Homo sapiens: one gene and its partner. The protein of the gene in region 2 interacts with the protein of the main gene of each other region in a pairwise test. Each region holds a gene or a part of one and is shown on either strand. Other genes may lie near its edges. The genes, in order: C3orf52 and ESAM.

Evidence for each region.
Region 1: the proteins of ESAM (region 2) and C3orf52 interact in binary tests that used the Homo sapiens proteins (3 or more experiments, as listed by UniProt).

The regions. Positions count from the first base shown.
Region 1 is NC_000003.12:112,106,415-112,121,541, forward strand, and holds the end of C3orf52 (TPA-induced transmembrane protein), read left to right. Parts: intron 1-3,128; coding exon 3,129-3,199; intron 3,200-6,386; exon of another isoform or gene 6,387-6,484; intron 6,485-6,549; coding exon 6,550-6,731; intron 6,732-10,227; coding exon 10,228-10,232; coding exon of another isoform or gene 10,233-10,584; 3' UTR 10,585-11,796; downstream 11,797-15,127. UniProt on the Homo sapiens protein: Has a role in LIPH-mediated synthesis of 2-acyl lysophosphatidic acid (LPA). LPA is a bioactive lipid mediator involved in different biological processes, and necessary to promote hair formation and growth.
Region 2 is NC_000011.10:124,754,291-124,770,114, forward strand, and holds the start of ESAM (endothelial cell-selective adhesion molecule precursor), read right to left. Parts: upstream 8,001-15,824; 5' UTR 7,865-8,000; coding exon 7,795-7,864; intron 5,124-7,794; exon of another isoform or gene 4,844-5,123; intron 4,238-4,843; coding exon 4,059-4,237; intron 2,453-4,058; coding exon 2,251-2,452; intron 2,073-2,250; coding exon 1,917-2,072; intron 474-1,916; coding exon 351-473; intron 51-350; coding exon 1-50. Other genes in the region: MSANTD2 (myb/SANT-like DNA-binding domain-containing protein 2), read right to left, coding at 12,886-13,738.

The DNA of each region.
Region 1 (15,127 bases), on a different chromosome or scaffold from region 2:
TTCTAGCTGCGGCTTGGTCTTTCTGATGATCAGCCCCCATCCAGCAGCCCGCCAAGAGTTGCCTCATCAGAAATAAAGACACTCCTATAACCCAGGAAACTGCAAGAGATTTAGGAGCAGGTCTGTGTCAGGAGCTGGAGTAAAGACCAAATGTTAGAGTAAAAGATGTACCCGGCGCCCCTGTCACTCAGGAAGTAACAAGGGTTTTAGGAATTCTGTGCCAGGAACTGGGGCAGAGACTAAACAGTATACATATTGTTATTATATCACAGTATTGGAACTTTATGCCCTTTCCCTTGACTTTTCTAAACACAGGCCCTGCCATGTGTCACTGCCACAGTGTTTTCCTCTCAGGGTTGGGGCCATTACTCTGCTTAAGCCAGCCTGTGTGACTACCACACCCTGTGCATGGGTTAGGAGTTAATGATGGCACCTGCCTTATTCTGGAAGCTGGTCTCTAATTAGCCACTGCATCAGACTCAGCTAATCAATTCGCTGAGCTCCTTGCTCAGTTTGCACCAAGCCTCATAGACATTGTGTGGGAGACACAAGACTAAGGGTTGAGGAACCACCCTATTTCACTTCTTTGGGCCCAAAGTGGACAGTGTGACTAACAGCTCCCCAAATGTAAATATGTCCTAAGTACAGCAGAGGAGCATGATCAAAAAGAATCTTCGAGTGAACACTAAAAATGATTTAGTCGACCACTCCATATGTTACCTTAAAATTTTAACTTAAAAATTTGCTGAAAGCCTGTTATGTGCAAAACACTGTGCTGGGCCCTAAAGATTAATAAAGGAAAGAAGGGAAGGAGGAAGCAGAGAAGACTGGAAGGAAGGATAAATATCACCTTTGCCATAGGAAGCTCAATCCAAAAGGAAGAGAAAGACATGAGTGCTTGACATTAGTGCTTGAAAAGATTCTCCTCTGCAGCATCCTCATCCTCCTCTCCATCACAGCATCCCCGTGAAAGCTGCTTTCCTAGTTCCCGAGTTTTCTAAATGACTGTCAGCCTATCGGCAACATCCTGTGCATTGGGGCTTAAGAGCTGTACAATGACTCAGTCATTTTCTCCGAAAGTTTTTGTCACTTTAAGCTTCTTTCCTCCTTGATATTCAGGAGACACTTTCCTTCACTGTATATATATCAATTTCTTCTTCACTGGGTAGTGTGGTCAGATGGGAAGAAGCTGGTTTTTAGTGTTCATAACATGTAGGATTGAATTTTGGCTTCTCCTTTTACTAGCACAGTGACCTGGGACAGGTTTTCTTCATCTCATGGAATGGAGTGCTGTTTAATTTTCCAGTAAAAAGGGGAGATATATTAATGCCTGTTTTGCCAGGTTTTTATAAAGATCACAACAGTAGTGACAAGATTAGAAGAGCAGAAATAGCAGGCACTCTCATCTTTTGTTCTCTTTGAGATATGGGTTGTACATGTTGAGTTAAATGGGAGTGTATTGTGGAAGTGCAGCGTCCTTGACATTCCATTTGGAGTTGAGGGGAAACAGGGTAAGCTCCCCATAGGGCACTGCTGTTTTTTGTATGTTCGACTGCTTGTTATTGAATAAAGTAATAGGTCATTAAGCCATAATGGCTGTAGCTGGGGATGGCACATGTTCCTAGTACTACTAGTTTAGGATTCAGATATCTGAAACACAACTACTCAATGCCTGGGAAAAGATACTTGTAACATAATATCAACAACTAGTATCCAGAATATAAAACTAACCACTTCAGATAGATAAGAAAAAGACAGATAAGCCAAGAGAAGGAAAGGAAATGAGTGAGAAATTCAGAGATGAAAAGTCCCAAAGAGTTAATAAACATGAAAAGATGTTCAACCTCACTAGTAAGCGAGGCAGTACAAATTAAAACAATGTGAAGCACTATTTTATACTCCTCGGAGTGGTAAAAATTTAAGTTTGGTAACACTAAGTGCTGGTAAGGATGTGGGAAATGGATATTTATACATTGCTGGGAGGGGTGGGAAAGGGAGAACAATTTTGTGAAGTTGGAGATGCACCTACCCTTAAACCCAACAATTCCTTTTCTTGGCATATGCCCATTGGAAACTCCCGCATGTCCAAGAAGAGATGCATGGAGACATTAAGGATGATTGCTTCAGCATAAGTTGTGATGGGGAAAATTGAGAATAGTGCATGTGATCATCATCAGAGGAATGGATAGGCTGGTATACTCATTTAAAGGAATCTGTGCAGGAGTTAGGTGAATGCCTTTCATTGAGATTTACTTTATGGGTAAATCTTAAATGTAATTTTGAGTGAAAAAAGGCAAGTTTTAGAAGATTATGTAGAATATGGTGCCTTTTATTTGAATAAAAACACAAATTATATTTTGTTATGATTACATAAATAAGTAGTAATTTGTAAAAATATGCAAGGAAAGGATGCATGCCAGCTTCAGAATGATGGTTAGTATTAAGAAAGAGAGAGAGGAGGAACTGAATAGTATGTAGGAGTCACTTTAGCTTTATTTTGTTTCTTAAATTAAAGGGCTGAACCCAATATAGCAAATATGAAGACATGAAAGCTAGGTAGTGGAAACACAGGTGTCATTATTTTTTATGATGCTTGCAATATTTCATGCATAAAATAAAGCCTCCATATTTTTGCAGTTCCCCTCTTTGTCTCTTTGTCCAGGGGATGTGCTAGACCCATGGCTTAGCATGGCTGTTTGTCTTTACACTGAAGCTCTGGAGAAGGGAGAAAGAAGCCCTGGGCTAAGCAATGTCCCAGGTGCTAAGTGGTCTGTGCTGCTGCTGTCCAGCAGCCATTTTGGGGTCTTCTCTTCTCTCCTTCCTATGGTCTGTGAGGCCTGTGTGGGCTCCAGCTGCTGATATTCTCACCACTAAGGCCACAGGGTGCCAGTGCAACTTCTGAGAGAAACTGAGTCATTTGGTCCTTATAAATGGAGTTCTTTTGAAGTAGCATTAACTTGAGTTTTGATTTATGGTGGGCTCAATTCTTGATCCAGAGCTTCCAGATAACGTTGATTCCAGGCTGGAGTGGAATCTCCTCTGCCTTAGAAGCAGTTTTGCTTTGTCAGGTGATGTGTAATATGATCTGTCGGTAATGTGTGTGGTTTAATTTGCTTCTGTTTGTTTAGCTCACAGATGTGTACAGTACATCGCCCTCTCTGGGTCGTTATTTTACTTCAGTTGAAATAGTGGACTTCAGGTAAGAGTGTGGAACATTACATTTTGCTCTCTTTCTCTGGAAAGAGATCCCCCCACCCCACCCTTCGTCATTTACCTAGCAGGGATTCCCAGAGCCTCAGAGCATGAAGGGAACCTGTAATAGAATCACAGAATGTCAGTGCTGGGAAGGTCTTTTACACCAACAGGCTCAACTCCCTTATTTTACAAATGAGAAAAAGGAAGCCCAGATTAATGGTATAATTCAACCAGGGTCACACAGAAGAGGGGAAAAGCCAGTCCCAGGTAAACCATTTCTGTTTAACAATGAATGCTCAAATAAGCTAAGGGTAGAAGTAGAAATAGATCTCAGGTCGTGCTGTGATGCGAGTGATACATGTATAGGCATTTGCTTTTGAGGAGCACAAGTAATACAGGAGTACATTCTCCTTGTTTAGTATTAAAGATGTAAAGAGGGGCCGGGCGTGGTAGCTCACGCCTGTAATCCCAGCACTTTGCGAGGCCAAGGCGGGCAGATCACTTGAGGTCAGGAGTTCAAGACTAGCCTGGCCAACGTGGTGAAACCCTGTCTCAACTAAAAATACAAAAATTAGCCAGGTGTGTTGGTGGGTGCCTCTAATCCCAGCTACTCAGGAGGCTGAGGCAGGAGAATCTCTTGAATTCGGGAGGGGAGGTTGCAGTGAGCCGAGATTGCGCCACTGCACTCCAGCCTGAGTGACAGAGTGAGACTCTGTCAAAAAAATAAAAATAAATAAAAATAAAAAAAAGAAGACATAAAGAGGTATGCACAGGAAAAGTCTCCCTTCTGCCTCCTTTCTTCTCCACTGCCACCACCAATAACTAATGCCATTCCCTTCCATGGAGGTAATAGCTGTCAAGAGTTGAGTGTAATTACTTCTGTTCATGTATCTACCATAGGCACCACAAATACTACACACACATAGGATATACACACCCATATGTATTTTTTATTTTTTAAATTTCCTCCTCATCTTTAATGTTCTTGAGATGTAGGCATCAGGGTGTATGTGTGTAGAGTCCATTTATTATCCTTTTACATCATTGGGACTATTGGAGATGACTTAAAATTTATATCAAAGCTTCATTATCCATTATGCCTGAGATGTCTCTGGAATATGACCATCAAAAGTTGTATTATATTGAGATTCCCCCTTCAAACTATAAGTTCTCCAAACCCTAATATTAGCAGACCTGGGAGGGGAGGCACATAAAGCAGGTGGTAGGTAGCACCATGGTGTGGGGCCAAACAGACCTGAAGTCTACAGATACATATGGTGCAGGCTGCCTTTGATCTCCTTCTTTAAAGACCCCCAATGGGCTGGGCATGGTGGCTTACACCTGTAATCCCAGTACTTTGGGAGGCTGAGGTAGGCAGATCATGAGGTCAGGAGATTGAGACCATCCTGGCCAACATGGTGAAACCCCATGTCTACTAAAAATACAAAAATTAGCTGGACGTGGTGGCGCGTGCCTGTAAACCCAGCTACTTGGGAGGCTGAAGCGGGAGAATTGTGTGAACCAGGGAGTCGCAGGTTGCAGTGAGCTGAGATCGCACCATTGCACTCCAGCCTGTGACACAGAGAGACTCAAACAAGACAAAACAAAACAGACCCAGTGTACATGGTACTTACGGTGACATCTCTGCACTTTATTTCAAGAAGTCCAGGCAGAGGTCCTAAAGTATTGAATTGAGGAAGAAAAGCCATTGCTTCCCAAAGGGTGCTGCTGCACATGGGTGGGAGGCGGCTAAATCCCTGGCACATGCATTTGTGTCTACAGGGGCATTGTGACCTCAGCCCTGGACTGGCCCAGCTAGAACCTGGAAAAATGCCCTTTGGTTTATTAGCTGCTAGACTCACTCCAGTGGTGGGCAGCTGGGCGAAAGGCCCTGAAAGTTGCTCTTTTCTCAAAATTCAGCCTCATGTAAATTTACCCTGTGACCTGCCATGGGGGATTAGGATGGGCTGGCCAGGCCAGGCTAGGTGGCCTGATTTTCCCATTCAGCTTCTGACCTGGTCTTCTGAAAGTCAGACTCTGGCCCTCTTCATTAGCCAGCCCAAGTCCTTGCCCCTGGGAATGCAGGGTGGCTGGCTGTGTAGGTGTTGATCATCATTAGCGATAATTAGAGGGCAGAGCTCAGGGAACAAGTTATGACACCTGCAAACTAGGTTAGCTGGATTGCAGTTTGAAAGTGCATTTTTTGGCCCTCCTTTAGTGGCATCCTTGAAACTATGAGTTTCTTCAGAGTCCTGACTCTCCATTATTCATTTGATCTGCAGGATCTGGCACATCTCCCAGCCGTAGTAGAGTTTATAAGCTCAATTGTCAGCCACCTTGTAAGATCGAAGAGTATCGGCCTATGTGACCTGTAGCCAGAAGAGGGAGCTCTTTGCCTATCCTTAGCAGGGGCAGTGGCCTGATTCACACTAATGGGACTGGTGCATCTGCAAAACTTCCCCAAGGTGATAGTCTCAGATGTGGCCTCCTGCTCATTATTTTATTGCTGGTTCTTAATCTGGCCCATCTTAAACCAAAGTAATAGGATAACTATGAATAAACTAAATGTTGAAGTAGCATTTAAAGAGTAGCATTAGACACTAATTAATGGAGGGTAGCCCTTGATTATTTTTATTTTGGAAATGGGAAAAAATGTTCTAGGAAGATGAAAATTCCCTTTCCTTAGGTCCCATTACTGAGAGTTACAGGGCTTGGTTATCTTGCCCTAGGGGCCTCTGGAAATGGGACAGAAAAGTTTCTCACTTTGGGGACAAACCAGGGAAGCCTGATTTGTTGCTGATACACAGGGTGGTCTCTGTCAACGTTCAGAAGTTCTGGACCCAGCCAATGGTAGGAAACTTTGGCTGTGCCTTAAACATTTTCATAGGTCAAATAAAGAATTGGTTAAACTAAATATCCCTGGCACACCTTTGTGGGGGCAATGCTGAGAACATGAAGAAGGAATGTGTGTGGAGAAAAGGGGAGGCTTCCCTGGCTTGCCTTAAGGGATGAAGGCTGGGGTTGGGACAGATGGTGGGTCAAGCCTGGGATCTTCTCAGCATCTTGACTGGAGATGGGCACCTCTACCTCTACCTCTGATGGCCTCTCCCAGTGGATTCCTAGAGGATAGGTACTAGGTGGAAGGAGGAGGTTAGGATCACCTCAACTTTTTGTGATGAATCTATGGAAGAGGATTCTTATAGGACAGTATGTTCTTCCAGGACAGAACATTCTTTGCTATTTTGTACTGGAAGAACATGCAAAACTAAAAAAAAAAAAAGTTATTGCTTAAATTCATTTCTTGAGTTGCAGTATGATGCTGTTTATGTTTTAATGTCTTCCATTGCCTTTCAGTGGTGAAAATGCCACAGTAACGTATGACCTGCAATTTGGGGTTCCATCAGATGATGAAAATTTTATGAAGTATATGATGAGTGAGGAGTTGGTGCTGGGCATTTTGCTACAGGATTTCCGTGATCAGAATATACCTGGTTGTGAGAGTCTGGGGCTTGATCCAACATCCCTCTTGCTCTATGGTAAGTAGAGCAAGTAAAGAAGTCAGAGTTGTGACAATAAACAGGTGAACCAGATTGGGGTCAAATTGGCTTGGTTCGATTTGGCAACTGTGGTGACTTGGTACTGTGTCAGACTATTCATTTATTCACTCATCCCCTCAGCAGATGGTGTTGCTGTGAGGTGATGTTCCCCTCTCTGTGGAGGCTACACAGTCCGTGCCCTCCATAATTAGACAGTGTAGTTGGGGAGCAATTATGGAAAAGATAATTCAACTATAAAGATGAACATTGCTACATGTTTCCTCATGCAGTTCACCCACATTCTAAGCCCTGTATCCTACTTTACAACATGATTAGCAACCTTTATGGAGATACTGTGGTTTCACAAGAGAAGTAAGAATTGAAGAATTGGAAATAAATGATACAGCTAAATTGCTGAAAGAGTATCTCAATATGGGGAACCTATTTCTTTTTCTGTTGAAGGCCACTGAGACCATTAAGAAATTAATAGAGGGGTATACAAAGACAAGTTTATTCCTTTCCTTAGAAAATTATGACAAATTTACTTGTCAACTTTTAAAATTAAGAACAGAACAAGGAAATAGATATGTTCTTTAATAAATGTAACAAACACCCCATTTATCAGAATCTGAGAACTTTTGACACTCAGAACAAAACCTGACAGAAAGGAAGGTCAGAAGGCCAAATGGCTTCAAGCCCTCAAAATATCCTTCCATTGCTTTGTAGTGAAGCTCTGGCCTTTGCTGCTGATCTCACTTTCTGATACCTCGCTCGGAGGCTTGTTTGCTCTTATTTAGCCCCTAATGCCAACAATCTTGAATATTTTATGTTCTCATCCACAGTCCATCAGAATCACTTTCTCCACATGAGTAGGTTCTCAGTAAATACTAGTTGAATGAATGAAAGGCAAATTAGAAGTAGTTGTGGTTGGCAGCAGGTGCATTAACGGTCTAGAATCAGAAGCATGGAACAGGGGGTTAAAAGCACAAGTGTTAGTGCATAGTACAAGACAAGGTGTTTATTATGATGATGACACTGTTTCTTGAGGATGAGAGGCAAGAGTAATGTTGGCCTAAGAAGGCAGAACGTTATGTAAAACAGTTCTTAAGAATGCCATTCAGAAGGCCAAATTTTAGCTCACTGGAAGTCTCATAAATGGAGATCTTCCTCACAGAGCATCCTGAATAAAGTGTGTCTGTGGGTCAGGCAGACACTATATGTGTGTGGAGTGAAGAGATTGTGCCCCAGTTACAGGAATTAAAAAAAAAAAAAAAAAAGCCAGGCGCGGTGGCTCACGCTTGTAATCCCAGCACTTTGGGAGGCCGAGGCAGTTGGATCACCTGAGGTCAGGAGTTCGAGACAAGCCTGGCCAACATGGTGAAACCCCATCTCTACTAAAAATACAAAAATTAGCCGGGCATGGTGGCAGGTGCTTATAATCCCAGCTACTCGGGAGACTGAGGCAGGAGAATCACTTGAACCTGGGAGGCAGAGGTTGCGGTGAGCCGAGATCGCATCATTGCACTCCAGCCTGGGTGACAAGAGTGAAACTCCATTTCAAAAGAAAAAAAAACCCAGAAACCTTCAGCCTCCTCCCATGTGAAGAGGCCTGCGATGCCTGTGGGGGCTGCTGCTGTGGTGTGGTTGGTCTTGATTTTCTTAGGCCCCTTGCAAAAATTGTTACTGGCTCTTTCCAAATGGAGGCCAGGGAGATGGGCAGAGGTCTGAGGAAAGGTTTAAGAGGCTTCCAAGGCTGAGAGGTTCAAATAGTACAGGATAAAGGGCAGGCTGCTTGTGAGACCTGAGGAGGGCTCCCAGAAGACCCTGAGCTTGGCCAAAGAGACTCAGCTGTTTCCCCAGGGCTTGGTGCTCCAGCAGGTGCTGGGAAGGCAGCTGTGAGTGGAACAAAGTCTCTGCTCTTCTGGAAATTGCATTCTTTCTCTCAGACATTTCTTCTGACGGGACATGCTGAGAAAATGTGGGGTTTTCTGTGACCCCATGTCCCACTTTCCAGAGCATGAATGTGCAATATTTGAGCCATTTTATGTTTTCAGAATGTGAGTGTCACTGCCCTCTCAAAGGGAAGGGTGCACAGAGAAGCAGTTGGGAAGTGAGGAAAGAAGAAGAGGGACTCATCGCAGGCATGCAGGCAGATGGGGGATGAGCTCAGAGGCAAACTCTAGAGAAAGGGAAAATGTGTCAGGGAGAGGCCCAGGGCCCTGGGAGGGACCAAGAGGGATGGAATGAGTTCTTACGCCAGTTTCTACGTGCTCATGAGCTGTGGGCTTGGGGGATTACCATCCCCGCCCTGTGATTACCCAGGCAACTAGTTTCCCACAATGGTAATGTTCTTAGTCTTCAAAGAGCAAAGATTCTTAAAATTGTTTGGTTTGTGTGCTCCTTAGAGAATTTGAAGACAGCTGTGTACCTTCTCCCCAGGAAAAAAAAATGTACCTACTTCTCCCCACAACACAAAATTGTACAGACAATTTCAGGGATTCCGAGTATTTCCCTGAGGCCAGCCTATGGTCCATTTGGGGTTTGTATATGTGCGCTTTAGAAGCAGAATCCAAAATTAGATTGTAATTTAGATTCCTGAGGGGTTTTGTGTGTGTTTGCTTCTCATTCTCTAATTTGGAAATACGGCGATTATTTTGACCTGACTGCATGCATATTTGGATGCCTTATAAAAATAAAAACTTAAAATATAATGATAAAGGAATTTTTTAAGTCCATCATCCCTCACCCTTCCCTATCTTTGGTCTTCTTCACCTCCTAGATGAGTGGGGCCCTGGGCTAGGAGGGGGAAGTCTGTTTTACAAAGGTCGAAGAATAGGTCAGCATCATGAGTTATTTTGGACACAGAGGAGGTACTTGGTACTGTTCTCACATGGGAAGGAGTCAGCTAGTAGACTGAGTAGGGAAAAAGGGCAAAACCAGGATTTTTGTGAGAGAGAAGAGGAAAAAGCCCCAGGTAGGGAGAATAGTGAATCTTGTCAGTCCTGTCAGTGGTGGCGAGGCTGGACTCCTGGTCTGTAGACCCCGGCGGGCTCCCCCTGTGTTGTGTCTGCTTGGGGCTTTGCATCTGCACCTGCTGTGCCCTAGGGTTCACACCATTTCTCTCATCAGAATTTCTCACAGTATATTTTACACGTTTTAAAAACGGAAATTTTAGAGTTTATGGTTAGATTATGAAAAGGGACTGGATGTTAAAATGTCCTTAGCACCCAAAAACCACATCATCAAAATTATTTCTCATGCATCCTACCCAAACAAATAAGCAAGAAACAATAAATGTCATTTGCCTTTTGAAATGTATTCAGAGCGGTGTGTGTGTGTTGGACTGAAGACTAAATTTCCTCTGTTAGGAATGTATAAACCTTGCAATTTTATCTAAGATTTTACACTAAAATTCAATGAAATGAAATGAAAACGTAAGCATTTAATAGTGGTTTTAAAAATCAGTAACTTTTGTTCATCTGTGTTTTCTTTTTAGAATGAAGTGATGGAGGCTGGTCTCTGTCTGAAAGCAGTGCTCTACCAAGTCCTGGAGATGAAGGGAATTCACTCTGTTTTGCAGAAAAGATTCTGTGGATTAATACAGAAGCACCAGCAACACCAGAGGGGTGGAGACTCCTTTCTCTCCCGATTCTACAGTCTGGCTCTAAGCCCAGTAAAACAGCTCCCGAGCACTGCTTCAGCTGGGTCCAGTCTTGACAAAGGCAGGAAGCCAGCTAGGGTGGGGGCGATAGGGTCAGCGGGTATGTCCCACTGTTGGAGGTCACTGGTATTCTGTTTGTTTTTGTTTTGTTTCGTTTTGTTTTTTGAGACAGGGTCTCGTTCTGTCGCTTAGCTGGAGTGCGGTGGCGTGATCATGGCACTGCTATTCTTGAAGCACTCCACCCACCTGGGCTACTTTTTCTTTAGTGCAGAGGTGCACTGTCTTCTTTTAGGTGGGATCGCGTAAGCATGAGCTGGTAGAGCACGGAGAGGCAGGCAGCCAGGTTACGAAGACTAAGCCAATTATTCACTGAAGTCATCCTCCTCCCCCCCACCATTCGATTTGATCTACCTCTAAGCCAGGCTGTGAAGAAAAGGAAGGCACTTTAGAAGACCTCAGCAGTGTGGTTCTGTGTCTACTTCCATGACCTGTACCTGAGTATCTTAGCCAGCCAGCCTTAGGAACACCACCAAGGTTACTTTGAAATCTATGTATATAGCTAGTTACAGACGGGAGCTATGTGTTTCTTCATTATTTTGCAGCTCCTCGTTGTTCCTGTGATTCCTGAACACCTTTTTGGAAATATGGGTCTCTGTGAGTTTTGAGCACACTACTATCACTTTGGATAGTCACTCCATTTATATTTTTATAAACTTCCATTAGAGAATCATTAAGGCTGTTTAATATCTGCTCTGGATATTACGCATTGGCTTTTTGTTGCCTAGTGCTACAAACCTTCCTGTGGGACTCAGTGTCTTCAGGCAATGATTGTGTATCCTGTTACAGATGGTTGTGATACAAGAAGAACCACTCTTCTTTGAAAATAAACTCTTGGAAGCTTTTGCCAGCTATTTGGGGGGTAGGAGGAATATTAGCAACTGTATTGGTTGTCTACAGATACAGAATTGCCTGTTGTGAGGGAACTGATTGTTTTGTTGGGAAAAGAAATTTACCAGGAGAAAGAGTTTTGTGCTGTATTGTGAGAGATCTCGCCTCTCAGTTAAATGAGCCCTGGGTTAAAGTCAGTGTGAAGGGCAGCTGTGTGCGGGCACGAGCCAGAGTGTCTGCCTCAGACTAGATTTGACTTGAGTTCTTTATGACCCAGGACTCTGGATAATGTGAATTTGCTTTCCTATTTAACTAGAAGATACATGTACTATAGATCATTGTCTCATTTTAGTGATTGTTCCTTAAACTAGTGAAACTAGTGGATTTCTCTTCTTCCTCTTTATTTTCTGCATGTTAAATGTGAACCTTAGTGTATTTGTATTTTGTAGAAAATAATGAAAAATTTTAATGGAGAATGATTTAAAAACATTTACAATACATTATTTTTGCATCTGTGTTGTTGCATTCCCATTGGCTGAGCTTTGGGCTGGGTTTTTGTTTGTTTGTTTTTTGCAGTAAATGGTGTTGAGCATAATTTTTTTCATTTCCCTTAGGGCAGCTTCCTCTTCTGGGTGAATAAGATCAAGCCAAGTTTGGCTGGGGCGGCCTGGGTTCTCCCCTCTGTTCCAGCAAGAGCAGGCAGAGGCCATCCCCTCCTCTTTCTCTGAGGCCCTCTCTGGCAGGACTTGGTATCTGAAAGGGCTTGGACTTGAAGGAACAGCCTGTTCATGTCTGGAGGCAGGATTTGGTTTTGTTCTTCCCTTCTTGTTCAGAAAGCACCAAGATGCAAGTACCTTGTCTTGGGTTTTGACCATTTGCAAGTCATAGAGAGGACTTTCCATAGATTTGACTTTTCTGCCCAAATGGTATGGGAAAAAACTAACCTTTGTGACTAACATATTTGGTGGTGTTTGAAAAAAAACGGCCCTTACAAATGCACTGTTCTGCTATAGGAGATAAATCTACTGGTCATCACACAACATCATGATGAGCATAATGCCTGGTACATAGTGAGGTTTTAATAATTGAAGGATTTGAGAAGAAAACTGCTCTTCTCTGGATGTCACTTAGATATGGATAGAATGGCAACAGCCATATCAGCAGAACCTGCTCCTGTTCCTCTGCCAACAAAAATTCCAGCCATGTGTCTGATTCTTTTTTGCCTTTCAATTTAATTTAGTTCTACAGATTTGAAAAAATGATGTGTTTTATGGAAGGCTATGGGGATACTAGTGGAGAAGACAACAATAAGAAAAGAAGCTGTTAGTCTTATTAAGGAGTCAGGATCAGTACAGATGAAACAGGAAACAGCAGAAAAAAATACCCAGGGGTCAAAAACAAAGGCAGTCTGGGCGCGGTGGCTCAAGCCTGTAATCCCAGCACTTTGGGAGGCCGAGGCAGGCAGATCACCTGAGGTTAGGAGCTCGAGACCAGCCTGACAAACATGGTGAAACCCCATCTCTACTAAAAATTAGCCAGGCGTGGTGGCAGGCGCCTGTAATCCCAGCTACTCAGGAGGCTGAGGCAAGAGAATCGCTTGAACCTAGGAGGCAGAGGTTGCAGTGAGCTGAGATCACGCCATTGCACTCCAGCCTGGGTGACAAGAGTGAAACTCCATAACAAACAAACAAACAAACAAACAAACAGAAACAGTAGGGTTGCGGGTGGTCAGAGAAAAGAGTGGTCAGTATAATCAGAGGACGTTTTTTTGTAGGAAGTAGGACTGAAGCCGAATCCTGAAGCACTGGTGGGATTTGAATAAGAAGATTTGCCTTCCTTTACACATGTTCGTGTCTTCTTAGGATGAGGTACATATTCTCTCTTTTGTCTTTTACATGTGAATTCTGGACATGAATCCTGTCCTATTCAGAGTCTGATCAATGCTAAGAAAAAATGGGAGAAATCTCTCAATGTCCTCCTTCTCCTCTCCCATCACTCTTTCATTGCTTTAAAATAAGTTAATTTACACTGCATTGTGAATTAACAATTGCTGCATTGTTGGCAGCTTTATCCACAGACATCCTTGAATCTTTCCTTTGTGACTAGAGATTACAGACTCAGCTTCAAAAGGCACCTCCCTCATCTCACAGTTGGGAAATCAAATTCTGGAGAGCTGGGAGGACCAGCCCAGAGTTCCACAGCTTGTTGAGGGCAAAGCCTAGCCCACAGGGCAACCACATACTATGAATGGCCACCAGCTCAGGTAGGATCCCCAGAGGCAGGCTCAGTTCAGGCTTAGCTGACATCTGGGAATCCCTAAGGAGCACAAGTGATCAGGGGTCAGGGGTGAATGGAGAGGGAGGGCCCTCAGACTGCAGGAGGCTTTCTATGATGATGATGACCTCTCAAGGCTTCACCAAGTGCCTTGCAAAAGAGAATTCTGTAGGAAAGTAGACGGAATTTACACTGGTCCACTTCACAGTTGGCAGAGCCAAGGTACACTCAGATCAAGTGGGTTTCTGAATTGAGGCTATAGGCTTGGAAAAGAACAGAGATAAGTGGAAACAGAATCTACTTTTCCCTGGAGCCCTTGTGGAATCCTGGAGACTTCTATTTCCTGTTCTGTCCATGCCCTTCCCCATCCCTGAGACTATCCGAAGCATCTATCACTCAAGTTTGTCCTAAAAAACGTTAGCATTTCAACTTGTTGTCAACAGATTTTCCCGCCCTATCTTTGCCCTCTTCCTATTTTTCTCTTCTGTTTTAAATAAGAATTTATTCACAGAATAAGGGATTATTTATAGATGCTAGTATGTACGTGAAACGGAAACCACAAAGTCTGCAGTTGTGGCATAAATTGTGCCTCTGAATTTTGGCTATGTAGTTTTAAGACCAGCATGAGGGAGGAGGAGTTTTCTGGTTATATTTGTGGCTCGAGAGAGTAATTTAAATGCTCAGGCTCAGGTTCTTTATCAGGGACAGGGACTCTTTCACTGAGGGGTTGCATCCCTAACCCCCGCACACATCGTATACAAATGTGTGTGTATGTGAATGTGCATTTTCTGCAAAGGGAGTGCACAGCTTTCATTAGAAATCATGAAATGTAGGGGAAACAGGATCAGTGTTACATACAGACATAGTGGGTATTTTGGGACATTAAAATTTATTTACTGGAAATTTGAGACATCCTACATATTAAGTATATTACACTCATATCAGAATTTTTTAACTCTTTTTTTGTTCTTAATATTATTTTTGACTGACAAATCATAATTGTGTATATCATATTGGGTATCTTGAAGCACTCCCAAATGGCTCCCCTTGCTCAAAAGTAATTCCCTTTCATAATCCCTCTTATAATTCCCTCTTATAAATCCCTGTTATAATTACATTATAAGAACAACTTTCTTTGGTTAAACATTTATATTTAATGTGTCCCTGATAAAAGGCATATACTGTTTGGGACAGATAATGCTTTCACAGGATAAGGTTCAAACAAATATAACTTACTATGTCATACTAAGAATATTTCAACCAGTCTACTTCCACAATGGTCCAGTGGCCATGTGAAAAATTCTAGCATAAACTCATTGATTTGGTGTTTCTACCTTGCTGGAGGACTGCTGGGTGACCCTGAATAGCCAGCTGTATCAGCATGGTTTTTTTCCGTACATCATAAAAGATTTTTGTTTCTCTATGCTCTTTGATATCATTTATTCGGCATCTGTAATAGATGATTGCCTGCATTAGATGTAATCCTCCTGTTGATGGTGAAGAAGCTGAGCCTCCAAGTAGCATGTTCAAAGTCACAGATGGAGGAAGAGAGAGAACCAGGATTTGAGTGACT
Region 2 (15,824 bases):
TCCAACCAGGGTACCCACAACAGCTCCAGCAACCACTGCAGCTCCAGGCCCTGGAAAAGGCGTCGTGTCAGAGGAGGACACCCAGCTGAGGGGTTCTCACCCCTCTCCAATCCCACTCTCCCCACCCCATCTGCCACCATACACATTCCCTCTTTTTCCCTGTCAAGAAGAGGGGTGGCTGTTGAGCAGGAAATGACCAGTCACTGACCAACCATTTGTACAAACATTTGATCAGGGGAAGCTCCGTGCCCTGCTACAGAGACAGGCCTCAGCAGACAGGCCTCCTCCCCACTTGCAACCCCTCCCCCACCATTGACCACTCTTCTTAACCACACTTACCCCTCACTGACCTGTGCTCACTTCCAGCGTCACATTACATTGGGCAGTGCCCACCTCATTGTGGGCCTTGCAGACATAGACTCCAGCCATGGAAGACGAAAGGTTGGTGAGGCTTAAAGACCCACGGATGACATCTGTGGACACAATTTAGCCATCAGTCCAGGGACCCTCTTTCCCATTAAAAAAAAAAAAAAATCTTGTCCCTCCTCTGGAATGTCCCCTTTGACCCTCTGGGAGTCACGGCTTGTCTATTCCCTGATGGGGGGAGAGGTGTGACAGCTGGGCTTGGCTCCCAGCTGCAGACTGACTAGTGCAATAACCTCCATTGTCACTCCTCAGTCAGTGCCCCCAGTGGATATCCGACAGGAGGCCACAGAGAAAGTGAAGCACAGAGAAACCAAAACACCATTTTACTTTTATTTCGGCAAGACAGTGTGATGAGAGAGAAAGAACACTGGGGTAGGAACTGGTAAACGTGGGTTCCAGAACAGGCCATGTGACTGACTTTAAGCAAGTTAGTTGATATCTGAGGGTCTCCATTTCTTCATCTGTAAAATGGGGACAATATGACCTCCCTGAGGGTGTTGAAAGGACTATATGGACTAATCATTATAACAGTGAATGTTTAGGGGGGAGGGATAGCATTAGGAGATATAGCTAATGCTAAATGAAGAGTTAATGGGTACAGCACACCAGCATGGCACATGTATACATATGTAACTAACCTGCACATTGTGCACATGTACCCTAAAACTTAAAGTATAATAATAATAAAATAAAAATAAATAAATAAATAAATAAAACAGTGAATGTTTATTGGCTGCTAACTCTGTGCCAAAGACTGCTCTAGATTCTTGATGTGTATGAACTTACCACAATTTCCCAACAAACCTGTGAGGTAATAAGTAGTATTTTTAAAAAGAAAAAGCTACTATTATAAAAATGGTCATGTGAAAAGTAGAAAGAGGCAAAATGAAAATCCATATTCCCACAACCTAGATCCAACAGTTGCTAACTTTTTGCCATATTTATTTGATTTCTTTCTTTTACTTAGATATTTTAAAGTAAATACATCAGCATAAATCTCCAAAAAAGCAGTACGTCGTTCCATATGACCACAATAGCATTGCCACGCCTAGGAAATTAATAACGTAACTATCTAAAATCATCGAATACTTCATATTAAAAATGTTTCAGTTATCCCTAAAATTTTTTTTTATAACTGGTGTGTTCAAGTCACACTAATGAGTTCAAGCTGATATGTGTAAAATCCGCATTTTACAAATTCAGGAAAGAAGGCACCGAGTCACACAGCTAGTCACTAGAAGAGCTGGAATTTGAACACAGACACTCCAGCTGTAGAGCCTGTTTCATAACAGTATACACATGTGAATGCACCTAACACAATACCTGCCCCTGGCAGGGCATCTTTCTCTGCCCCACATCCTCCCCACATCCTCCTCCTCCTCCCCAGTGCTTGTCAGCCTTGGCTCCCCTTTTCACCCCAGTCCCTGTGGTACCTCTCATCTTTCCCCTTCCCCAGCCACAGTGTCCACTGTTTCCAGTAGTGTCCTCACCTAATGCTGGTGCAAAGAAAGTCTGGAAGGATGGAAGCTGCCGATCCCACTGGTATTGGACAGCGGGCTTACTCCTTGGAGACTGGCAGCTCAGGGTCACGTTTGCCCCCACATGGGGCACACCCTGGAGACGGCAGGATGGAGGAGCTGGAGGAACTGGGCAGGGGGAGACAGATTAAAACCACACCCAGGAGACCCACAGATCCTCTCCCTCTGCCCTGCACCCTTCTGTCGCTTCATTTGTTCCTCCTCCAACTTTTGTCATTTAGGAGAGAGACTCACCAGACCTCCCAGTGCAGGTGGGGAGGGGTCCGGAAATCTGCTTCTCACTCACCCAGTACATTGAGTTCTAAGGTTTTGATGCTGTGGCCCCTAGATTTGCCTTGTTTGTCTTGCACATTCACGGAGCAGCTGTAGGGGCCAGAGTCTTTCTCCTGGAGACCCTCCAGCCGCAGGGACAGGTTCCGGGAGGGCATGGAGTAGACCAAGGATACTCCAGGTTTGCTTGTTGTGACCCCATTGATGTAGGACAACACCTGGTGTGGGGCATAACACATCCCCGTCATTACTACATGTGTCTACTGTGCCTACAGGCTCAGCCACTCTCCCTCCCCCAGCTCGCATTCTCCAAATGCCCCTCACATGCACCCATTCTTCTAACCTGAACCAGCTCCCCATTCACCTTTTGTCCCTAGCCCCCTCTCACTGCCCCTGGGTCCTCTTCACCAGAACAGTTCTTCGTTCCTGCGCATTGTCTCATCTCCCAATTGCGGTGTTTAGAAAGGTGACATAATAGTGGGAGGAGGGACATGTAAATAGGAGGTATGTATATATGCAACTCAGACTGCTGGGGTGGATCCAGGTTTGTAAGACCTGAAACTTACACAATGGGGAAGGCATCTTGGAGGAAAAAAATATTAAAAATGTATTTTAAAAGTATCAAATGAGGCTGGGCACGTTGCCTCATGCCTGTGAGCACTTTGGGAGGCTGAGGCAGGTGGATTGCTTGAGTCCAAGAGTTCAAGACCAGCCTGGGCAATACGGTGAAACACAGTCTCTACAAAAAATACAAAAATTAGCCTGGCATGGTGGCGTGTGCTTGTAGTCCCAGCTACTCAGGGGGCTGAGGTGGAAGGATTACTTGAGCAGGAGCGGTAGAGGCTGTAGTGAGCGAAGACTGCACCATTGCATTCCAGCCTGGGCAACAAGAGTAAGACCCCTGTCTCAAAAAAATCCAGCTGACTTCCTTGAACACAGTTTTCAGGGGTTCTGAACATTGTTTCATTCTCTTCTGGGGTAAATCTGTATTTGGATGTAAGCCCGGTGTCAAAACAGATGGGTGGGAGATTGTGGGAGGAGATGGCCCCTTGGCTCTCAAGGTGGTATACAGGGGGGCAAGGTGACAGATGAGAATCATTTGGGAAGAGAAGTGGCCTGTGACTTGACAGTATTCAAAGCAGAGAATGTGAAAACAGAAATATGCTAACTTTTTTTTTTTTTTTTTTTTTTGAGACAGAGTCTTACTCCGTCGCCCAGGCTGAAGTGCAGTGGCTGGATTTTGGCTCACTGCAACCTCCACCTTGTGGATTCAAGCAATTCTCTTGCCTCAGCCTCCCAAGTAGCTGGGATTACAGGCGGGTGCCACCATGTCCGACTAATTTTTGTGTTTTTAGCAGAGACGGGGGTTTCACCATATTGGCCAGGCTGCTCTCGAACTCTTGGCCTCAAGTGATGTGCCCACCTCGGCCTCCCAAAGTGCTGGGATTACAGGTATGAGTCACTGAGTCAGGCCAGAAATATGCTAACTTTTATAAGTCGTGTGTGTTACTTCCCCTAAGCGTTTCCCAGTCCTCAACTTCCATTCTTCCCCTCCTCCTCTCCTCCCTCATAACCAAGTAAAATGCCTCTCACACTTTTACAGTATTTTGTGTGCTGGATTTTTAGGGAAAGCCGGCAAAAGATAATTGTTTGGGAAGTCTCCAATATCAGAACAAAAACTGAACTGGTGAAGACTTCTGCTTTTCCCTGAAACTCCTTCCCCGGCCCCCATTCCCTCTCCACCCCTCCCACCGCTACCAGCTCTTTGCTTACAACCCCCTCTGGGCGCAACTTGCCGCTGGCTGACAGGCGTTCTTCCCTCACCTGATCCTCCTTTTCTTTCTGTTTGAAGAACCACATCACAAAGGGCACCTCCCATGGCTGGGATGAAGACACCTCCCCGTGCAAGGTGTACCACGCTGGAAGCACCACTTCCCCTCCCTCCACCGCCTGCAACCGGTTGGCGGGCAAGTGCAGTTGCAGCTGGGCCCGCGAGGGGGGCGCTGGAGACAAGAGCGAGGCGTGAGTGCCCAGGACCGGCTCCCAGCTCCGCCCGCGGACCCTGCCCTACGCGGCTTCACCAGAGAGCGAGGAAAGTCGCTTTAACTGGAAAGAGGAACCTTGCGGGGTCCGGCCCCTGGAGGCCTCAAGGGGTGCCCAGGGACCACTGGCTCAGTGTCCTGCTTCCCATTTCATCACGACTTCTCTCCACCGCCAGCCTCTGCAGTTGTAGCGGGGATGGGGACACATTTATATGCATTTATTCGTATCCAGAGGCGCAGATTTCTGAGCATCAAAGAGAGGGGGCAGATTTCCAGCGAGGAGGGGAAGATATGAGAAGAAAGGGTGGACCGACTGTTTCTGTCGTACGCGCCACGTAGCCCACTTGCTTCCCTAGTTTTCCTGAGGGAGAGTAGGGATGCTGCTCCGGGCCGCCAGGGTCCCTCACTCCCGAGTTCTCAAAGGGCGGAGGGGTTTGGGAGGCCGTCTGGTTACCTATTAACCCTGCGGCTCCTTCTGAGCTTGCCAGGAGCTGGAGAGAGCAGAGCAGCCCAGCGCCCAAGCCTGACCCAGTGAATGCGATGCTCCCCGCCCTCCCGCGCAATCTCAGAGGCGGGCTTCCCTCGGAAAACGGAGGGTTGAAACCCAGAAAGCTCCTCGGAGCCCTTCTGGGGTTCGGGCGATCTGGGCAGAGAACTCTCGGGTGGCAAGGAATTAAGGGCAGCGCGAACGACGGTCTCTAGACAAGTATGAAGCCTCCCCTGAGTGTGTCCGGCGCTCAGGGGGTGGACCGGGGTGTTGGTTTCAAGGAGGGGGCCATCGTTTGCACCACGGCGTCCAGAAATACTCATCCTTTGCCCTTCGGGGAGGCAACAGAGCAGCCAACTGGTAAGCCCTTTGGGGAATAACCTTGGGCTTGCACACGGCCAGGCCTGAGGATGATCGCCGCTCCAGTCCCGGGCCCTACTCCCTCCAGGCCTCGGCCCTCTGCCTCGGAGCGGAAGACGCCACCTCCGCGTGGCGAGCAGGCGGCCAACGCCGCGGGAAGAGGCCGCAGCCAGGCCCCGCTCTCCACCCTCGCCCTAGGAGAGCCAGGCTGAAGGCCTCTAAGGGCTGGGAGCCGATCCGGCCAGGATGCAAGCCTCCCCCACCGCTTCCCGGCTGCGCCGTACAGAACCCCCACCTCTGTTACTTGGCCTTCGCAGCATCCCCCTTCCCATTTCCTGGAGGATCTCTGTGGTCTGGGCAGGAAATTTGTACCCAGTGATAAGGCAGAAGACAATGAAGGGGGGGCCACTAGACCGGAGGCTCTACGGGAGGAAACAATCCCCGCCTCAAGGAGCTGGACGCCCCCTGGGGACCCGGCCCGCTGGCCATTCCGCTGAGGCCGGGCACGCCTGGAGCCTGCAGGTGCTGCCGGCTCTCCCCCAGCCTTTCTACGACACACACCCGGCGGCCAGAAAGGGTTTCCGCCGGGAAACTGCCTGGGGCCCAGAAGGGGCGCGCCCTTCCTTCACCTTGTGGACCACCAGCGACCTCCCCAGGTCCCACATTTATAATTCCACTTTCCAGAAGGTAGAGGAGAGTTAAAAGAGATAGTAACGGACACACTGGGGTCTGGGCACATGCTCCTTGCCCTTCGCCCTGTCAGAAACTAGGAACAGAAGAGGGCCTGAGGCTTTTCTGCTCTCCCTCCTGGGTGTCTGCTGGCTCGGAAGTCACCAACTGGTCCGTTTTTTTCGGTCCCAGGGTCCACGGAGCCACTGGGAGAGAAAAGGAGTCTGGTTGGGTCTGATCGAAGGACACTGGGACAGCCCAAGAAAGGGACCCTTCCGGCCCACAGCCCTCTCCGAGGCCAGAGTGAGGGAGCCGGCAGGGGCCGAAGGAGAGCGAAATGGGCCCGCTCCCCGGGGCTATTTTTAGTCTCCCTCTTTCTCTGAGAAACTCCCCCCGCGGGCTTCTCACGCCCCAGGGGCAGCAGCACTGAGCCGCCGAGGAGCCTACTGAGCCGGAGAGCCTCCTCCAGAGCCCAGAAGAGCGGAGCCGGGCGCCTGCACGTTGCACCGGGGTCACCAGTGCCATTTAACCCTCGAGTGGCTGGCGGGAACTGGGCAACCCCCCAGGGGGACCGATTGGAACTTTTGAGTCCAGGTCTTCAGTCTGACAAACTGAGGCTCAAAGCTGGGGTAGGACAAAGGGTTGCAGATGAGCAGCAGGTGAAGCCTGGGACACTCAGGCAGTCAACTTGAACTGTCCTCCCTGGCTTCAGAGATTCCCCCAGCCCCCACCCCCCACAAGGAAGGGGGATAGAGTTGGGGTGGAATGCAGAAGGAACAGAGCTGAAGTTGAAGTTGGGAAAGGCGGGATGAGAAGTCTGAGGGATCCTGGAGCAGGCCCACCAAGCCCAGAGGGACAGAAGGCTACTTGTGGCCTTGGTGTGGCCTGGGGGGCTGTACTTGAGACTCATTTTGTCCAAGGACTATAATATTGCATGCCCCGACACCTGTGGGGCACAGAACATGCTAAAGGGGACACTGGTGATCCTCATCTCTGTCCCCATCATTGTAGAATTTCACTCTACAGCTTCCCAGGCCTTACTTGTCCTGACATCCTCCAACCTGAGAAATGAGTTAAAGTCAATATAGCTAAACCCACCCTTCACTCCCATTCGAGATCCTTGAAGGGAGATGGCAAGAAAGCTGAGGGACAGCAAGTGAAATAGTTTAAAAGGGCCTAGTCCTGCCGGGTCCTCTCCCAGATGGAGTTCTGAGCCACCCCAGCTTCAGCTGAAGCCAGCGCCCCTGGAGGCCTACAACACTTCCCAAACACTTGCTCCAAGGAGGTTCCCTTCCTCTCTGACCCTTGGCCACCCTCCTCCCAATTTCCCCTCTTCCCTTTGGCTCTGGAAACCAATAAGGGTGGTGGGCCTTGGGGGGGTGGGGTGGTCACAATTCTGTTTCTCTGTGCGTTTGAACCCCTCCCCCATTTCCTGTGTCCCAAATGACCTCACGGTCGTCCTTTTGGGGCACCTCCCTTGATTCCCAGGGCAGGAAGCAGGAGGGGGCAAGAGAGAGCATCTGCGCTGGGGAATTGACACGAAGTGCGTGTGTCAAGCCTGGGGACCAGGGGTATTTCCCCGGGGGATCTTCCTCATCAGCTTGTATGTGGGGTCGGGGATGAGAGGGGGCTAGAGTTAAGTCCTTAAGCTCTTTAGCCAGTGTCTCATCTAGCGGCTCAGCTCATCCGGCTCTGCTGGGTGGGGGGTGGGGAGTGGACAGGGTGAGGAATGGTTCCGATAACTCACCCCAGAGGTATCCAGGTCTTCCGAGAGATGCCCTTACCTCCCCCCGCCATCCGCCCCCACACCCAAACTGGGGGCTGTCCCCGACAAAGCGAGAAGTCAGCGCCAGCCAGTGATGCCCTGGAGTGGGATTAGGAGGTCAGGGGAGGAGGGCGAGTCGTGGGACCCAGTTCCGCAGCAGTGGCCAAAGTTCTCCCTCAGGGTCGAACTCACCCCATCCCGCATCCCAAGTCCCCTCCAGGTCCGGGTTTCACTCACCGAGGGCACTCAGCCCCAGGAACAAAAACCGCAGCAAGTTGGTCACCAGGGGCCCCGGGAGGGAAATCATGGCCCTCCCTGGCCGGGACGGAGTCAGGGGCGCCAGCCGCGGGACGCACGGACCTGCAGGTGCCGAGGCTGCGCGACGGCCGGAGCGTGCGCGGGAGCCGAGCCGCTGACACCCAGGGCGGCTCCAGCCCAAGTCTGCGCGCCTGTGTGCCGGTGGCGGGGTGGGGACCGACGGCGACAGCGGGGCGGGGCATTCGAGGGGGCGGAGAGGTCGCCGTCCTCCCGGGCGGGGCGCGCGGGGTCCGCCGCCCGGGGGCGCCCCCAGCGCGCGGACGGCGGGACCCTGCGGCCTCCTCCAGGTCTGGACGCAGGGAGGGGTGAGGTAAGCTCTGATGCCCCACGAGCCAGCCAGGTACGAGTAGAGGGGGAAGAGGAGGCTCCAGAACTATCCTGAGCCGTAACCTTCCCTTCCGCCGGGGTGGGATAGGAAGGGTGACCAGGAAGGGTGGGAAATTTGGGGACTATCCGAAGTCAGAACCACCCGTAACACCTGACATGTAAACGCTCCTGGGCTCTGGCTCCAAACTTGGGGGTGCCGCATCCCCGGCCCAATCAGGGCGGTCTTCCTGAAGGAGGAAGAGGGGAGCAGCGTTTTCCAGCTGCAGGGAGAGGCCGGAGCGCCGGCCGCGCGGGCTCCCTGGCACAGCGGGAATCTGTGGCTTTCCTGGAGGCGGGGGCTGCGCGGCCACCGGAGCGCGGCAGCGAGGGCGACGGCAGAGGTCGCGCGGGAGCCCAGGGCGCCCCGGGACGCGCCAGCGGGGAATCTTCACCCGCGGGCAGGAAAAAGCGCTCCGCGAGTTCAGCAGACCCCAGCCCAGGCTGGAGGATTACCCCGGCCTGTGCCTCATACTCCGAGCAGGGAAGGTTGGCACAAGGTAGTCCCGGGAGCTGAGCAGGAAACTGAGGCAACGTGCGTGCTGCTCCCAGCTTAGCCCCTGAAATGAGCGGCGTACGGGCCTGATGCTGACTGGGGAGGAGGGGCGGCTGCGGGAAGGAAGACAGGACAGTCCCTCCGTTTCTTCTTTATCCCCCAAATCTTCAGTGCCTCCCATCCCCGCAGCGAAAGGCTCAGGCGCGCTCTGATCCTTTAATTCCCGAGACTAGATCTTGGTCGCTGTGAATTGAATTTTACGCCCCCCTTCCCGCGCCATTCGGTCAAAAGGCACCTCTGCGCCCTCTGGCGGCCGCCGCTCCCTTACAGAAAGGCACGCACCTGTTCTTGCTTTTCTGTCCAACAGCCAAAAAAAAAAAAAAAAAAAAAAAAAAAAAATGCTTCAAACATCCCAGCACAGCTCAACCACCCAGCAAAGGTCAGTGAGGGAAGAAAGCATAACAACGAATTCCTGACGCTGCCCGCTCTGCGGGCAGAGCTGTCTGGGAAGAAAAGCAGCCAGGCCTGCGGGATTCCATTTACTGCACATAGTTTTGCTGTTTTAACAGAGTGTAGTCCCTGGGCCCACACTTCACACAAGATCTTTTTCTATACAGTGCCCCATATGCCCTCTCAGCTGCTTCTTTCTAGTGTGACCTGCCTGGCTCCTCTTCAAATACCTGCCATGCAGTGGCTTTGAGAAATGCCTATGCAAACACAAAACTGCTCATGCAAACCCTAGAATCTAGTACTTGGCAGCTCAGTGGAGGCACAGACAACAGGAAGAGATACCTGCCAGTCTCACACTCTTGTGTAGGGAGCTACAAACTTGGACTTGGCCAAGCAGATTGTGTGGTGGGGTTGGGGGCTGTTGGTTTGGTTTTCCTATTCCATCACACTCAAATTTTTCTTGGCTTTAGTCTGCATTGCAAACCATCTCTTGTAAACACCCCTCCTTTGTTTCCAGACAAGTCACCCCAAATAAGTAACTCCTTCCAAGAGAGGAAGTACAAAGTCTTTTGGTTCTAACCCAGAAACACCAAGTATCTAATCACACAGGCTGTGCTTATCCTGATCAAGTGCTACATAAGGTGTAGCCTCAACATTCATTCCCTGTAGCTAACTTTTCCTTCAGAATTCAGATCCCAAATGACTTGTGACATGGGAAGTAAAGCTGCAACCAATGATTTGTAGTCAGTGAATGTCTCCATGTGACACAGGGGCAGTCTCTTCAAGATTCTTTGACCGTAAAGAATTGTCCTCACTGTCTCCTGTCTCCTATTTCAGCTATTTCTTTCTTCTGACCCTGAGGGCAGTCAAGTCGTAGAAGTTAGCAGAGCAGCTCCATTACTTTGTGAAAGTTTTCACCAAGATGCATTTTAGGGTGGACTGCTCTCCACCCTGGTGTAAATCATGAATGCTGACACAGATGATCTATGTGCGACCTGGGAACTGCTTACATAAACGTGTGCAAGAGCTAGTTCATAGTTTCATATGTTAGAGACTTGCAGGTCATTAGTGTTTCTTCCAATCACATCTCATGTTAGATTCCGAAAGTAATTCCTAATATTTACCTTTACATTTGAATATACTTTCTCTGTCCCCCTTGAATCAGTTATAAGGCTTCATTAAGGTCTAAATATTCCATTTCTTATTTTCGGCAGTGCTCATAGTTATCTGACATCCTGCTATCTTCTTTTCTAGACTGTTCTGGCCAAAGAGACTGGAGATCCAGTATCAGCAAGCTACTTTCTTGGTAAACCTCCATTTCCCAATGCTCATCTTTGTCCTCTACCCCCACCCATCCCAAGGCAAATGATGAAAACATCTATTGGATCCAGCCTTTGCTATCTTCTCCATGCTGCTCATAGTGGGTCTAGCAATGTCCCATTCTCGGTAATGTTTGGTAGGTCTAAAACATCCTCACGAAATGTTCCCCAAATGTTCTGCTCCAGCTGAGCAACTAATAACAATGGGAAGATGCAGAAAAAAAATGCATGGAGCATAATGTTAGTTTTGGGACTCGTCAGTGGCAACGTTTTAGAGATGCCATGAAGAATTCCTGGTAATAATCCTTCTTCCTACAGCATTTAGCAATGAATACTATGGGATTATGGCTAAAAGATGGTCAAGACTGCCTCAGCCATTAGGATCAGAATTCTAAGTTCCAAAGAAGAGCAAACTCAAGAGGATTTCCTCAGGCCTCTGACTATAGATGCTGCCTGGGGAGAACAGGTGCTACACTCAAAACATTCTCATTTTATTTATATCCTCCCTGAACTAGTACCCAACTCCATAACCCCAGACTCAAATAACAGAAATAAAAGCCATCTCACTGATTATAAGCTCTCTAGTTATTACAAAAATAAATAAGCATCAATCAACCAACAGGCATCAGAATGAGAAAATCACTGATTTGAGACATTCAGGCTGCAGGAAAAGAACACTTTTTGTTAATATGTAACTATATCTTCAGTAGTACAGAAAAATGAGAAGAACGAGAGTTCTTACCTGGATTTGCGGCTCACTTAAAGTAGAGCACCTGAGATGCTGGGAAATCATAAAGATAAATAACCAATCTAACAAATTCCTGCCATGAGACCAAAGTGATCCTTGACTACTCTATTAGTAAGCGACTCTGAGCCAAGAGTACGAACCTGTAAGTGGAGTGGTGGTTGGCCCATTAGAAATCTCTGAAAGATCTAAACATGACAGTTACCTTCCTACTGGACTCATACTTCTCAATTCCCTCTCCTAAAAGAATACTTTTGGGCTGGCCCCAGTGGCTCACACCTGTAATCTCGGCACTTTGGGAAGCCAAGGTGGGAGGATTGCTTGAGGACAAGAGTTTGAGACCAGCTCGGTGGAAACATAGCACCATCCATGTCTCTACCAAAAAAAGAAAAAAAAAAGTGAAAAACATTGCTGGCGTGGTGGCACTTGAGCCTGTAGTTTCAGCTGCTCAGGAAGCTTTGAGGCAGGAGGATTACTTGAGCCCAGGAGTTCGAGACTGCAGTGAGCTATGATTGTACTACTGCACTCCAGCCTGGGTGACAGAGCAAGACCCTGTCTTAAAAAAAAAAAAAAAAAAAAAATTTCTACTGGATCTTCCTTCCTTTTGAGAGATAGCAAGATTACATCAGTTTTCCAGTTGTACTCCTTGAGAGCTGCCCCTGAGTACTGAGTGTAAAAGATGAGGAATGAGTCTCTTACAAATTGATGTACTTAGGGTCAAAAGGATTATCCTAGTCATTTTTAGTCATTTTTCAAAGAATTACAAAATGAGATGTTCAGTGACCTTTGGTACTCTGACAGTAAATAATGACATTGGTCAGTGAGGTATAGAGAATGAAAGGATGTGAAGATACCCTGCTCTGTTTGTTCTCTTCATTCTTAGCAGTCAAGTCAGAGCGCAGCCCCCACTGCCAGTGCAGCCACACTCTGCTACAAAAAGCTCAACTAGTACGCCAAGGGGCCAGGAATTACTTTAATTTTTTTTTTTTAAAAAAAGGTTTAAATGGCAACACAACTGTAAAGTTGGTACATCACAGAAACAAAGGTCTTTGCAAGCAATACTGATTGGAAATAGCAAAACACTTGGCTGGTGAAAAAAATGAAAATCTAAATTATATACAATAGTAGCTAAGGGTGATATTGAAAAAGTCTTTTTAACTGTGAATCAAGATTTAACTTGCCATTATCTATTGCTTATTTATTCAGGGTTGTAAATATTACTTATATAGAGACATAGAGATGTGTAAAAATGAAACATTGTGAAAAAAATACAATTTTTCAATTTCATATGAAACTCAAAGTATAAGTTTTGTCCAATATGGAATGTACCTACATTTGTTTATATTAGGGCTCTAAAATCCATTTAAAAATTGTTTTTCTGTTTTTAAAAAAGAAATAGCTGACCCACCATGCAAGTTCGCTATATATCTTGCTTGCTCAAAATGAGCATTTTCAGGTGAGGTCTGTTTTTTCTGGCCCAAGTCTACTATGATTCCTTAGAAGTCGTACTGGCCCAATTGAAGAAAGGGTTTCCATGAAGAGTCTGACGGCGGCATCTGGATGAGGGGTGGTCCGGGTAATGGGAAGTGAGTAGAGAAGAAGGAGCTAAGAGCCCAAATCCTTATGAAGGATGACATTCAGTTGTTAAATTTTAAGGGGTATCCAATGGCTTTTTCCAGGCACTCAACTAAAGAGCCTGCGGAAAGAAAATCCCTCTCTACTTCTACAAATTTGATGTAGATGGATTTGGGGGAAACTCCGGGATCCACAATACAGTTCTGAGACAAAAACCCGTTAATACCAACCCAATCTTTGCTGAAGGTTTTGGTATTCGCTTGGAAATGTAAAAATAAGCACTGCTGTAGAGTCCTGACCTCAGCAATCCCGAGGTAGCAATAGATAATTCGGGTGGGTTCTATTTCCACCTGTAATGAGGCTTGTGCTGAAAGGGTTTCCAGGTCAACCCGGCCCTCTTTTCCTGGGTCCAGGGAACTTTGCTCCATGTGTGGTGAGAGGGGCCTCTCAATACATTCTTCATAGCCAATGGCATAAAGGCCTGGGCTTTTAGGAATACCCCCAGGCAATAAATATTGAACAACATTCCCACCAGTTGGTTTGGAGTGGGCAATGGGTATCCAGTCAATTTCCATGTGCAGCTCCAAGCACCTAGCTTCGCTAATAGTGATCTCTAAAAATTTGTAGTAAACATTTTTCCAGTTCATTTTCTGCACTCGGGTCATAATGATCCGTCCTTCAGGCTTCTCAGAGTTGAAGTACTCCCGAAGTCGCTTGCCAAGGGGCACCTGGGAGCTGATCTCAGCATAATGGTAACGGATATCCTCTTTCCAACGGGTGTTATAACCAATTCCAAAAATGGCCAGTTTATTAGAAAGATGGAGCCTTGAAAAGTCTGTCCAGCTCTGAAAAAGTTCCCATTTCAACTGTACCGATTCCAAAATCTGTACAATATTCTGCATGATGTCTCTCTTCCTGGAAAGACAAATAAAAGTCAAATTCCCTAAGTATCTAGAACAGCGGTGTCAGATAGAACTTTCTGTGATGATGGAAATGTTCTGTATCTGCTGCCCAATATGGTGGCCACTAGAACATGAAATGTGGCTGAGGTATTACATTTTTAATTATATTTAGTTTAAAATTACATTTAAATAGCCACATGTGACTAGCAGCTACTGTACTGGGCAGTGTAAGTCTAGACAATCAACCTATTAAAATGAAAAGAAACACACCCCTAGCAAGTTTCTAAGAATTAATGATAAACTGCTTTCCATGACTTCTACAGCCTCACTGTATAATCAGAATCAATACCTTAGACTCTAGGATTTCAGAAATCTATGGATCATAATATTTTAAAGTGGCTATTATGTCTATGATGGCCTTCAGACCTACCTACCTACCAAAATAAGGTGAAAAATGCTGTATTTAGAAAAGTATCTGGCGTCACTTAAAATAATTAACAGCTTAATTTCTAACCTGGAAATTCAGAAAGTCCAATAATGGGCTTTGTGTGTGCTGTGGGAAAATATACAACTGATTATGGCTAATGACCTTTTTAAAATGACATTTTCTATTTGTCTGAAATTCATTACTAATCCCAAAATTAATAGAAGTCAGGTTAGCACAGAATTAAGATCTGGGAATTCAGATGGAAAAGGCTCACATTAGGCTTAGATTTCAAGAGAGCAACATTCAAGATAATAAATTGAGACTGTTCTAGAAAACCCTTTATAAAGGGAAGCAAAAATATAGGAATTATTTCAATTTTGACTCATATACTTAACAGAAGAAGACAGAAAATGCTGGAATTTTTATTTCACGGGCTGCTTAAATCATGTAATTTGTATATATATGAAGCTATATAAAGTTTGCTTCTCAAGTACAGCAAAACTTTGATACTGGAAGATTGGTTCGTTAAATATTAACTTGGCAACAAACTACTACCCTCCACATCAATTACGGGTTTAACCTATAAAAACACTCAACTACCACACTTACATACAATCATACACAGGCAAGAAAGGGGGTGTGCGTGCTAACAGCTTCTTGAAAACGGGCTCTGGAAGGAGCTTGATCCTTGAGACTTTTCCTGCTACGTTCTCATACCTTCTAGGGGAGGAGCTTTGGGAACATTCTGGCGAGGCTTCACGTGGCCATTCTCAGTCTGTCCTCTCGCTCTCCTTGACTTTCTTTGCAAGATGGCAGAGAATTAATATTTTGTTATCAGCTGCTTCTTGGAGCTAAGACTGCCCTGAATTTACCCTCTATCCTTTAGTTTGTCTTGAAAGCTTTCAAGTATGAGAGTGGCTATCTAGATGAAATCACTACCTTCTCAGGGAATTATTCCTCTTCTCAGAGGAGACAAAAGCACTTGGTCAATTTTATGATGTCTGATTGTGGTGCTTATGAGGCTAAGACATAGACCATATTTCTGCATAGGTCGATGCTTTAAAGGAAAATTATCTTTCATAGCTACCATCTTTCCCTGCCCTCCTTTGAAATGTTTTATTGATCTTACAGAGGACTATGCTAAGGAGTTGGGATGGAGAGCAGAGATTTTTGTCTATTATGCTCAATGAAGTATCCCAATGCCTGACATATAGTAGGCACTTGAGAAACGTGTGTTGAATAAATGAGCAGACTAGGGGATTAGCCAGGTTCAGCTAATCCCACCTATACCTACAGAGAAAAAGAAATCCCATGCCCAAATCACGTTATTTTTTTCAGCATTGTCATGGCACTAATGCTATAGTCAGACCCTGCAAAGAACCATTTTAAATAAACTCTTGCACTGGAAAATAAATGGCCTACCCAGATCTTGTTCAGAATCTCTCACCCTGAGAGCTAAAACCTGGAGGAGAGGCAGCACAGGCTGGATATTTCCTCAGAGTCTGTCAGTTTCCTGCCCTGCTGATATGAGCCTGAAGCTGATTTGGGCTCAAGATTCAAACCAGCATTTCAAAGCTCTGGAGCACAATGAAAACTAGACTCAGTTATTTAAACAATTCCTGAGAACTGTCTGTTAGATTTCCTGGTTTTTGAAGTTCCAATCACCAGAAAA